Linked DNA regions of Homo sapiens. The protein of the gene in region 3 interacts with the protein of the main gene of each other region in a pairwise test. Each region holds a gene or a part of one and is shown on either strand. Other genes may lie near its edges. The genes, in order: ATF7IP, PTPRG and PKD1.

Region 1 (3,647 bases), on a different chromosome or scaffold from region 3:
CCTGTTGAACCCATTTCTGGTGATTGTGCCGCTGATGATATAGCCTCTAGTGAAATAACTTCTGTTGATCTGGCTTCTGGAGCACCAGCTTCCACTGATCCAGCCTCTGATGATCTGGCCTCTGGTGATCTATCCTCTAGTGAACTGGCCTCTGATGATCTGGCCACTGGTGAACTGGCCTCTGATGAGCTGACTTCTGAATCAACCTTTGATCGTACCTTTGAACCAAAGTCTGTACCAGTTTGTGAACCAGTTCCTGAAATTGACAATATAGAACCAAGTAGCAATAAAGATGATGATTTTCTTGAAAAAAATGGAGCTGATGAAAAATTAGAGCAAATTCAGAGTAAAGACTCATTGGATGAGAAAAATAAAGCTGATAATAATATTGATGCTAATGAAGAAACTCTAGAAACAGATGATACAACTATTTGTTCAGATCGACCTCCTGAAAATGAAAAGAAGGTAGAGGAAGATATTATCACAGAGCTTGCTCTTGGAGAAGATGCTATATCTAGCAGTATGGAAATTGACCAAGGTGAAAAGAATGAAGATGAAACTTCTGCAGATCTTGTAGAAACGATTAATGAAAATGTTATTGAAGATAACAAAAGTGAGAATATCTTAGAAAATACAGACTCTATGGAGACAGATGAAATCATTCCTATTTTGGAAAAGCTTGCACCTTCTGAGGATGAACTTACTTGCTTTTCTAAAACATCTCTCCTTCCAATCGATGAGACAAATCCAGATTTGGAAGAGAAAATGGAAAGTTCTTTTGGTTCACCATCTAAACAAGAAAGTAGTGAGAGTTTGCCAAAAGAAGCCTTTCTGGTCCTCTCTGATGAAGAGGATATTTCGGGTGAAAAAGATGAGTCTGAAGTTATATCGCAAAATGAAACGTGCTCTCCAGGTTAGCATATAACTTAAATGTTAAAGATTTTTTATTGACTTTGATGAACTGTTTAATAAAACATTATCATAATGTTTTAAATTTATTTTAGCTGCAGAGAAAGTTGAGAATGGTGATGACTCTATAGAAAGATGTCTTAACTTCATAGAATTCAGAATTAGTGTGTGTACTCTGTGAGTAGCATTGTACTAAATACTAAGAAGGGAGATAAAATAAGTAGAAAATATGCCCTTATAGTCTGGAAATAGAGATGAAGTAGAGCACCATAACACTGAGATAACAGTTTAAGTTAGTACATAATTGACTAGAGTTGTAGCAGTTCTTTCTTGCTATCACTTAGCGAACAAATAACTTAGAACTAAAAGCCTAATAGTTTAATCTATTTGCTTCAAGTGTAACAAATTATATTTTCAATTAATATTCCCAATGAAATCCTGTTCTTTAATATTCTTTGTCCAGGAATGACAGCACCATTGTTGTAAGCCAGAAACCTTAAAGCTTGATTATCCATTTGATAAAGACTTTACCCATTTGCTCCCTCAGCCCTTTTGATTCTACCCAACCTATTCTCTTCCTCATTTTCTGAATGAGCTCCCTGTAACCCAATTCTCTTATTTGATATTGTCCGTCTATGTCTTAGATCTCTGTTACTTTTAGGTTGATTTCAAACTCCTTATGTAAAAGGTACATTAACTTTATGATTTGTTCAGTACCTATCTCTCCCATCTCTTTTATTTTATTTATTATTCCTAGAGAAAAAGAATGAGAAAAATTCTACCTTCTTTTATGGTCAAACTGAAAAACATTATTCCTCTATGAAACTTTCTAAGCCTGTGGAAGACTGAGAAAAGCATGAATACCTTTCTTTTCCCATTATATCACATTCTTTTAGATTTAGACATCTCTGAGAGAAGTGACCTTGCTAGCATAAAACACCATCTAATTTCTTCAAAGAAAAAAAAATGGAGGCAGGTCTAAGAGACAGAGACAACTTTTTTCCCCAATATATCATACCAGCTTTTGGAGGTAGAGATTTTTTTCTTATTAAAAAATGGCTTTTTTTTTTTTTTTGGCCAGGTAAGGTGGCTCACACCTATAATCCTAGGACTTTGGGAGGCTGAGGCAGGCAGATTGCTTGAGCTCAGGAGTTCGAGACCAGCCTGGGCAACATGGTGAGACCCCGTCTCTACAAAAGTACAAAAATTAGCCAGGCGTGGTGGCACTTGTCTGTAGTCCAGGGTACTTGAGGGCCTGAGGTAGGGGGATCACTTGAACCTGGGTGGTCGAGGCTGCAGTGAGCCGAGATCGCGCCACTACTCCAGCCTGGGTGACAAAGTAAGACCCTGCCTCAAAAAAAAAAAAAAAAAAAAAAAAAAAGGATGGCTTTTTATTTTCAAAGAGCATTCAACTAAACCTATATAAAGAGACAGGCCAGGCCCTTCTTGGTTCTAGAGATTTGAAGATAGTATTTGCCCTCAGGATACACACAAGAATTAAATCATAGGCCATTAAATACAAGACTGTGAGTACAGTGATAATGTTAAATTGGCATTCTGGGAGTGCAGATTAAGGTAACTTTATTAGAGCACCAGATGTATTAGGGATGTCTTGCCCCTTTTAATATCTGTATAACAGAGGTTTTTTTTGTTTGCTTGTTTTTGTTTTGTGAGACAGAGTCTTGCTCTGTTGCCCAGGCTGGAGTACAGTGGCACAATCATAGCTCACTGCAGCTTCCACTTTACTGGCTTAGGTGATCCTCCCACCTAAGCCCCCAGAGTACCTGGGAATACAGACATGTGCCACCACACTTGGCAAAATTTTAATTTTTTTGTAGAGACAGGGTCTTGCTATATTGGCTCTGCTGTAACATAGGGTTTTAATGAGTCTAATTCTTTTTTTTTTTTTCCGAGATGGAGTCTCGCTCTGTTGCCCCGGCTGGAGTGCAGTGGCACGATCTTGGCTCACTGCAACCTCCGCCTCCCGGGTTCAAGTGATTCTCCTCCCCACTCCGCCTCCTGCGTAGCTGGGATTATAGGTGCGCGACACCACGCCTGGCTAATTTTTGTATTTTTAGTAGAGTCGGGGTTTCATCATGTTGGTCAGGCTGGTCTCAAACTCCTGACCTCGTGATCCTCCTGCCTCAGCCTCCCAAAGTGCTGGGATTACAAGCGTGAGCCACCGCGTCTGGCCAAGTCTAATTCCTTTTAATGGCAGCTCCATCCTACTTGCTGAGGCCAGAAACTTTGGAACCATTTTTATTTTTTCTTTCACACCCCATAATTAGTCCATCAGGAAATTCTGTTGGTACTACTATCATAATAGATCTAGAGTCCAATTCACAACTGTTATTACTCCTGCTGCGAGTCACCATCATCAGGCCAAAACGGTGCCTGGCACACAGTAAGTGCCCAGTAAATATTTGTAAAGTGAATGAATAATCAATAATGTAAGAGAAGCATATCATGGAGGACCTTGGTTATAATGCTAAAGCTTTATGATGGCGCTGGAATGCCAATAAAGAACTTCAAGCAGAGAGGAGAATGAAATTTACATTTTGGAAAGGTAATAGGTGACAGTGTTGAGAATGAATTTCATCCATTTCCTATAAGTGTCTATACAGAGTGTGGCACTAGGCCAAGTCCATAAAAAAGCCTTATAAGTCCTTTAAAAAAAAAAAGTCTGTATAAGAAAGTTAAAAAAGCAAATTGCAGCTTATGATTTAATGAGTACCTTT
Region 2 (3,647 bases), on a different chromosome or scaffold from region 3:
TTCAAAGCCCCAAACAAAAGTTCTCAAATTACAAAGCAAATCAATTTAGGTAATTTGGAAGAGGAGTAGTGTCAAAAAAAAACTCACCACCAACAAATTCAGACTCTATCCACAGTTATTATCAGCTTATTCAGAAGCTAAAGTAATTTGCTGAAAGGTCATCTCTTCAACGTAACCAAATAAAATCCTATACTAATTGCATTACTTACTTATTTAATTGTAGCAAGTACAGGAAGACACCTTTATTCCACCCAGTGTTCATGGCACTTGCTTATATGGGAAAAGTAACAGGGTGAAATACATAAAAAGCTAGATCTTTCAATTGGCCCTCCTGTGCAATTAGGAAAAATAGTTTCCATACTCTCTTCAAAAAGCAAATGGTCTGAAATAAAATTTAAAAAAAATCCTGAGCAATGATTAGAGAAACATATTACAGTCACCGCCCCCCACCGCTCCCCGCGCCTTGCTACCCCGGTGACCTTGGACCTACCTTCTTCAACTTTAGTTTCCTAACCCTACAGTGGAAATAATCATGGTTCATACTTCCAGGGATGATTAAAAGCATATAAAATGCTCAAGCACGGGGCATAGATCACATGTGCTTGGTAAGCGTAGGCTATTATAATTACTATTCCCATTTTATAGATTAAAAGGGTGAGGCCCATTTGCCCAAGGTAAATGCTGTAATGAACTAAGAATTTCAACCCAGGTCTCTGTGGTTTTGGTGTGGATTCTGAATAAGAGATATGTATATCTGAAACTCCCAGAGCCCCAGCGCCACCCAACCCCACTTCCGTAAGATGTTGGGTAACCACCCTTAGCTACCCACAGACAGAGCTAAGCCTCCACACTTACTGAAGAGAAACGCTTCTGGAAAAGTGTCATTTTAAAAACAGGTAGAACTCATTTATAAATAACCACCGCTTTGTAAATAAATCCTTTTGACAATTCTTAAAAAGTTCTCGAGACAACCTTAAAAAGTCAGTAATATTTCCTCACTAATCTGGACTATGCTTTTATGCTTGGTCAATTGCTTATGGCTGTGTCCCCTTATCCAAATCATTCCCAATTAATGAACAGATCTGATTTAAGTGCACTGCAGGATTCATGAGGCAGCAATGCTATGAAAACTCAAATACCTCTTAGATGTATATTGTAACTAGTATGAATTCCTCAAAAGTATATCCACTGCATTATACAACACCCTGCTTCACTCACTTAGAAAGACAGTATCACAGACCCAAAAATAAGACCAGTTGTCCTATTTTCTTACATGGAAGTGTTACATATTCCATGAACTATGCTTTCATTTTTTTCTTTTTTAGTTGCTAGAATTCAGCAGCCAACTGTGTCACTTTGCTACTCCCCAAAAATAGCTAAACTGAGTAGTTTAAAATCACATTTTGTTGTTTGGCCAGAAAAATATCATGCTGATTTCAGTCTGCAAAAAAAAAAAAGAAAAGATTAGAGGGTACGAGGTGTGCATCAGTGTTTGGTTCTCTCTCATATGCTCTGTAGCTCTGAATCCATGAACATATAGAGACAGGACATCAATGTGTTCAAGTGTCACACAAGTGTAAAATAAAAGCAAACACCCAACTACTGTTTGCTTCCCATCAGTGGAGCCAAATTGAATCCCAGTAATGAGTAACCTATTTCCCTCCATTACCACACTGTCCATAAAGCCTGAGAAGAGGAATTAACATCTGAGGGTGCAGGACTAGGCGACTCTTTCTACACAGGGATTTGGAAGACTTATGAGACACATTTTAAGCCCACAGAAAGCATTTTTCCCACTTTAAGCTGAGAAAGCAGAGACCTCCTTTGCAATGTGGGCAAGGTGATATCTCAGACTTCATGAGGACTTTCTCATTTATTTAAACCTCAAAATGTAACCTGTTAGTAATCTTACATAGAATGTCCCCATGCTGATCCCTACTCCTCCTCACCCTCAACAGCAAAGACAGATACAAAAACCCATCACGTATGTTTATACAATTTTTCAAAAAGTTGTCTATACATACAGTTGTCCTTTTCAGTTCCACCGTCCGCTTTCCATACACTCCTATCCAAATCTCTTAAGAACACTTAAAAACGGTGGCCAGGAGCAATGGCTCAGGCCTGTAATCCTAGCACTTTGGGAAGTTGAGGTAGGAGGATCACTTGAGGTCAGGAGTTTAAGACCAGCCTGGGCAACACAGGGAGAGACCCGGTCTCTATAAAAATAAACATATAAAACTTTTGATTTAAAAAAATGGTTATTGAGCACTTACTGTTTACCATGCACAGCACTAAGTCCTTATATACATTCTCATTCAAGCCTCACAAAGACTTTAGGAGTTAGGCTTCTATCACCACCCCATTTCACAGAGGAAGAAAAAAATAATGAGGCACAGAGAGGGTATGTAACTTTTCTAAGGTAGCACGGCTAGCAATGGCACAGGTAGGCTGGCTCCAGAGGCCATATTCTTACCTATTTTGCTATGTTCTGTATAACTCTCAATAGCCACCTAGTTTAGAAAACAAATAGAAAAGCATTAACAAGTTCCAGGCTCCTAAAAGATTTTTCTTCCTGCTACATGCTGACAAAATAGTATGGCAACTCTCATCAACTGGCTGACACATGAAGTTTTCATTCAATGTGTAAGTTACCTCCATCCCCACACCCACCACAAGTACAAGTGAAACACTACCCAATTCCGTTTGGGAGGCTTCCAAAACAGAAACCAGGCACATATAGAAACCTCATCAGCTGTCATTCCTCTTCCTATCCCTGGAAGCACTTAAAACGAATCTTTTTTTTTTTTTTTGAGACGGAGTCTTGCTCTGTCGCACAGGCTGCAGTGCAGTGGTGCAATCTCAACTCACTGCAACCTCTGCCTCCTGGGTTCAAGCAATTCTCCCGCCTCAGCCTCCCGAGTAGCTGGGACTACAGGTGTGCACCACCATGCCCAGCTAATTTTTGTATTTTTAGAAGAGACAGGGTTTCACTATATTGGCCAGGATGGTCTCAATCTCTTGACCTCATGTTCCGTCCGCCTGGGCCTCCCAAAATGCTGGAATTACAGGCATGAGCCACCATGCCAGGCCAAAAAAAAAATTTTTTTTACAGTTGTATTAAGGGCTGCAATCATAAAAACCTTAGGCCTGCATAGATCCAGCAAGCTATCTCACACAGAATATATTTTTCTGTCAAAACACCAAATATCTTGCCACAAATGATACCAGGTGAAATGGTCCCTCCAATTATAGTTGTCCCAATAGAAGGGGACAATCACTCAAGAAGCCCTCTAGCTACTTAAAGCAATCTTGCACAGCCATCACTTATACCTAACAATCCTTTTCATACTGAGTTAACCACAAATTTATCTGTTCTACATCTCAATCATCACAGACTTTCCTGACAGTGAAATTTACCTGTATTACTTTAAGACATCTTTTAAAGAGACATTAACAATCCCATGTTCTTAGAAATTTGCAACAGGCAAATTGTAGGGAAAAGCAAGGAGACGTAAATACAGGTTTCTGGAATATACTTATCCTTTTTATTGATTTTGTTGGTTACAACTCCACATAAACACAATACCAAAAATAAGTCAAAGCCAAGTCCGATAACTCTTTTTTACACAAGTATAGTTGATTTTTTA
Region 3 (4,220 bases):
AAAAAAACACATGGGTCAGGAGGGAGAAGGGTCGGGGCAGGGAGGGCAGGGCAGGCTCTGGGGTGGGGGGTCTGTGAGTCAGCCACGGCTCTGCCCACGTCTCCCCACGAAGCTTCGAGCCACGCAGAGCAGCACGTTTTGCAGTACGCCATCTTTTCCAAAAGCCACCACCTCTCGGCAGCATCATTAACCCAAGGCAGGCTGTGGCCTCAGAAGCCCCGGCTGTCCTCCACCTGGAACTGGACACAGCTGTCCCTGCTGAGCTTCAGCAGCCAGGGAGCCACAAGTGGAGAGGCACCTGCGTGAGCCCCCCAGGAAGGCTACTGGTGACACCCAGACAGCAACGCTCTTGGACCCTTGAACACCTGCCAGCAGCTGTGATCTGTGTCCTTCACCTCTCCCAGCTTGACCCCTCTTCCCTGGGGAAAACCCAGCCGTCTCCCCGAGGAGGAGTTTGCAGGGTAGACAGCAAAATGGCTGGGCTGCCCCACAGCACAGAGGGTGGCCTGGGGGGCCAGCCAGGGCCTTCACATCCTTCCTAAGGCCCTAGTTTGCCATGGGTCCCCTCACCCCACCTTCCAGAACTCTCCCAGCGGCGGCCCCAGGTGTGTACAGAACAGCACCCACCTGCCCACATGAGGTCACCCTGTGCCCTGTTGCACACTTGGGGGGCCTGGCATTCGGAATCTTGCCAGCTCAGGCTGGGACAGGCCACCAACTCCCAGGGTCCCCCTCCTCCAAACCCCAGGACCAGAGCCTAAGAGGACAACACAAGGCAGGGGCGGGGGCTCCACTGCTGTGCCAAGGGCCTGGAGAACACGGGCCTTGCTCTCCGCTCAGCAGCCACCAGCGCCCTTCTCTCCCGGACAGCTCCTGAGGGGCTGCTCTCATGGACACCATCAGGTGCTGGGAAGCAGGAACCACCAGGCCCTGGACAGAGTCCCCAGTGACCGGCCTGGCAGACAGAGGAGCCCTCAGCTACAGCATCACAAACAACGGGTGGGGTAGGTCTGATGCAATTCTGTGGGTGCTGTTGCCAGGCAGGAGGAGGCCATCTCCACAGAGACAGCCGCGAGACACACGCGTCCGCAGTCAGGGAGCGCAGGAGCAATGTGGCCCCGAGGGGCACGGGCTCCATTGGTCCAGGAGAACCCATTCTTCTCCCACCCTCGAGACCACCCAGCAAAGCCCCAAGGACACACGGCTCCCCTAAGGAAGGGTGGCCACAGGCGGGAGTGACCCAGAAACGTTACAAAACCAAATGCCAGAACCCACCCAATGTTTAGCAAGCCTGGGGATGTGCCACGTCCCCCAGGGATCCAGCACGCACCCAAGGAGACACTGTCCCGGCGAGGAGCCTGGAGCCTGGGAAATACAAGGCATCAGACTGGTCCCAAGACTCTCCCCAGCGCTGGGGACAACTGTCTGCTTATCTTAGTCCCCTCCGCCCTTTTCAATCCAACCCTGGGTCCTGGGCACCTCATAGTTCCAAACCCCTGCTATGCACATCCCGGCTGTGATGCCTGGGACAGGTCGTGTCACCTCTCCAAACCTGTTTCCTCATCTGTGAAATGCAAATCTCCACGGTCCCTATGCCTCGGATGGTCAGAGTCAGGATTCCGCATGACGACCCCCAACAGGAGCCTGGCACAGACCTGGCTCTGGGCAGCGTCTCCATAAAGGCCACCTGTTGTTTTTATCTCCCGAAAGCGAACATGACAAGGCTTTAACCCCCCACGGCAATCCCCCCTCACCCCTGTTCTCAGGATAGCCTTGGAACCCAATAGCAGAGCGCCTGAGGCCCTTCATGACCCCAGCCCACCCGCGAGCCCACCTCCCACCCTGCCCCTACCCCTCACACCTCCCGTGGCCAGCCTCCAGCCTCACGGTCTTTGCTCACACCGTTCACCCCCCTTCTTCTGGACCCACCTCATCGCCCCTTCCTAAGCATCAGCCCAATTCTTGCACATCCATCAAATCCTTTTCCAGACACCTCCTGGAACTCTTCCCTGCCGCCCCCTACAGCCATCCCCACCTCTCCGGGTACCCCGCAGCCCCAGGCCGCATCCCAATTCCTCTCCAATTAGCGACTGTTTGTCCTCCCAGCTGAGCGCGGCCTCCGCGCCCCGCCCCCGCTGGCGTCTGCAGAGCCCCCGGGTGGGACGTCTGTCTCCAGACCCGGGGTTTTTCGGCTCCCCGGGGCCGTGCCAACCGCGGCTCCAGGCGTTCCTTATTTAGCAGGGCCGCCGTGCCGCGCCGGAGCCTCGCCCTGGGAGCGTCCTGGCCCGCGTCCTGCTTCCCGTCCCGGGCCAGGGAACGCGCCCACGCCCGCCCGTCCCGCGGCCTCTCCCGGGTGCCGCTGGGCCCGCTACTCACAGCGCTGTGGCGTCCGCGGGGATGCGCAGCGCGGGACCGAGCGTCCGCAGCCCGCGGCCCGAGCAGTTGACGCGGCAGGCGGCGCCGGGCGCTGGGCCGCAGAGGCAGGGGGGCTCGCAGGGCCCGCAGCCGCGCCCGGGGCCCCCCGCCAGCGCCCCGAGCCACAGGCCCAGGCCCAGGGCCAGCGCCAGGCGGGCGGGCGCGGCGGGCGGCATCGTTAGGGCAGCGCGCGCATGGCCCCGCCGTCCCCAGGCCCGCCCGCGCGCGGAGGCCGCAGCTCAGGCGGGGCCCGCGGACGGCATGGCGGGCGCGGGGCTGGATGGGGCTGCGGCCGCGACCTGCTGCTGAGCGACGCCCGCTCGGGGCTCGGGGCCAGGCCGCTCCGGGAGCTCGGCCGCCCGCTCGGACGCTGGCGCTGCAGTGCGGGCCCCGCCGCGGCTCCTCCTCCTCCTCCCCGCGCGGCGCGGGGCGGACGGGGCGAGGGGGGGCGGGGCGGGTGCAGGCTCCGCCCCCTTCGCCACAGCGCGACCGGGCCAGCGATGAGGGACTGGCATCCGGAGGCTTCACCCTCCGCTCCACAGGGTCGGCAGCAGGGCGGGGCCTCCGGAAGCTCCGCCCCACGCGTTCCCGGGGCGCATGCGACGTGGGGCGGAGCGTCTGGAAGCTCCGCCCGTCGCACTGCAGAGTCGGCCGAGGCGCACGAGCTATTTTTCACGCTCCGCCCCGCTGCAGGCTAAAGTGCGTGGGCGGGAAGCGGTGGGCAGGGTGCCATCTGGCTCCGCCCTTCTCCTGTGGTGTGGGCCAGGCGGCGGGTTCCTCCTCCTGCAGCAGCCACAGGCTCCACCCTGATCCTTCTTCCGCGGTGTGGATCCTTCTCCCGCAATCTCCGTGCGCGGCCCGAGTCAGTACCCGCAGCCTCCCGACGCACCCGCTGGCTCCAAGCCTCCCTACCCCAGGTTTCCTGGCTGAGAGAGAGACAGAGGGAGAGAGGGGGAAGAGAGAGAACAGGCAATGGGAGGTTGATGGTGAGAGCTTATTGAAAGACAAGAGGGAGGAAACCCACATCCTTCATTCCCCATCCATTCATTTATTGCCTTATTTATTCCATTGAATCTTCACAGCTCTAGAAAAAGTGTGCTACAATTATTCCCTTTATTAAATGAGGTCACTGAGGCACAGACAGTTTAAGAAATTTGCCAGCAGGGCACAGTGGCTCACTCCGGTAATCCCAGAACTTTGAGAGGGGGAGGAAGGTGGATCCCTTGAGTCCAGGAGTTGGAGACCAGCCTGGCCAACATGGCGAGACCCCGTTTCTACAAAAATTAGCCAAAATTAGCCAAACTGGCTCACGCTTGTAGTCCCAGGTACTCGAGAGGCTGAGGCCGGAGGAGCGTGTGAGCCCAGTAGGCAGTGGCTGCGCTGAGCCGTGATTGTGCCACTGCACTCCCGCCTGGGCAAAAGAGTAAGATCCTGTCTCGAAAAAAAAAAAAATGGAAAAAAGAAAAAAAGAACTGGCTGGGAGTGGTGGCTCATGCCTGTAATCCCAGCACTTTGGGAGGCCGAGGCGGGCAGATCACAAGATCAGAAGTTCGAGACCAGCCTAGCCAACATGGTGAAACCTCATCTCTACTAAAAATACAAAAATCAGCTGGGCATGGTGGCAGGCACCTATAATCCCAGCTACTAGGGAGCCTGAGGCAATAGAATCGCTTGAACCTGGGAGGCAGAGGTTGTGCCACTGCACTCCAGCCTGGGCAACAGAGCAAGACTCCGTCTCAAAAAAAAAAAAAGAAATTTACCAGGTCACACAGCAGGTGGATGGTAAGGCTGCGATTGTATTCCAA

Evidence for each region.
Region 1: the proteins of PKD1 (region 3) and ATF7IP interact in a two-hybrid assay, tested with the Homo sapiens proteins (one large-scale study listed by IntAct).
Region 2: the proteins of PKD1 (region 3) and PTPRG interact in a two-hybrid assay, tested with the Homo sapiens proteins (one study listed by BioGRID).

The regions. Positions count from the first base shown.
Region 1 is NC_000012.12:14,424,561-14,428,207, forward strand, and holds part of ATF7IP (activating transcription factor 7-interacting protein 1), read left to right. Parts: coding exon 1-913; intron 914-3,647. UniProt on the Homo sapiens protein: Recruiter that couples transcriptional factors to general transcription apparatus and thereby modulates transcription regulation and chromatin formation. Can both act as an activator or a repressor depending on the context.
Region 2 is NC_000003.12:61,568,071-61,571,717, reverse strand, and holds part of PTPRG (receptor-type tyrosine-protein phosphatase gamma isoform 1 precursor), read right to left. Parts: intron 1-3,647.
Region 3 is NC_000016.10:2,133,099-2,137,318, forward strand, and holds the start of PKD1 (polycystin-1 isoform 1 precursor), read right to left. Parts: upstream 2,801-4,220; 5' UTR 2,592-2,800; coding exon 2,377-2,591; intron 2,154-2,376; exon of another isoform or gene 1,935-2,153; coding exon of another isoform or gene 1,930-1,934; intron 107-1,929; exon of another isoform or gene 21-106; intron 1-20. UniProt on the Homo sapiens protein: Component of a heteromeric calcium-permeable ion channel formed by PKD1 and PKD2 that is activated by interaction between PKD1 and a Wnt family member, such as WNT3A and WNT9B. Both PKD1 and PKD2 are required for channel activity.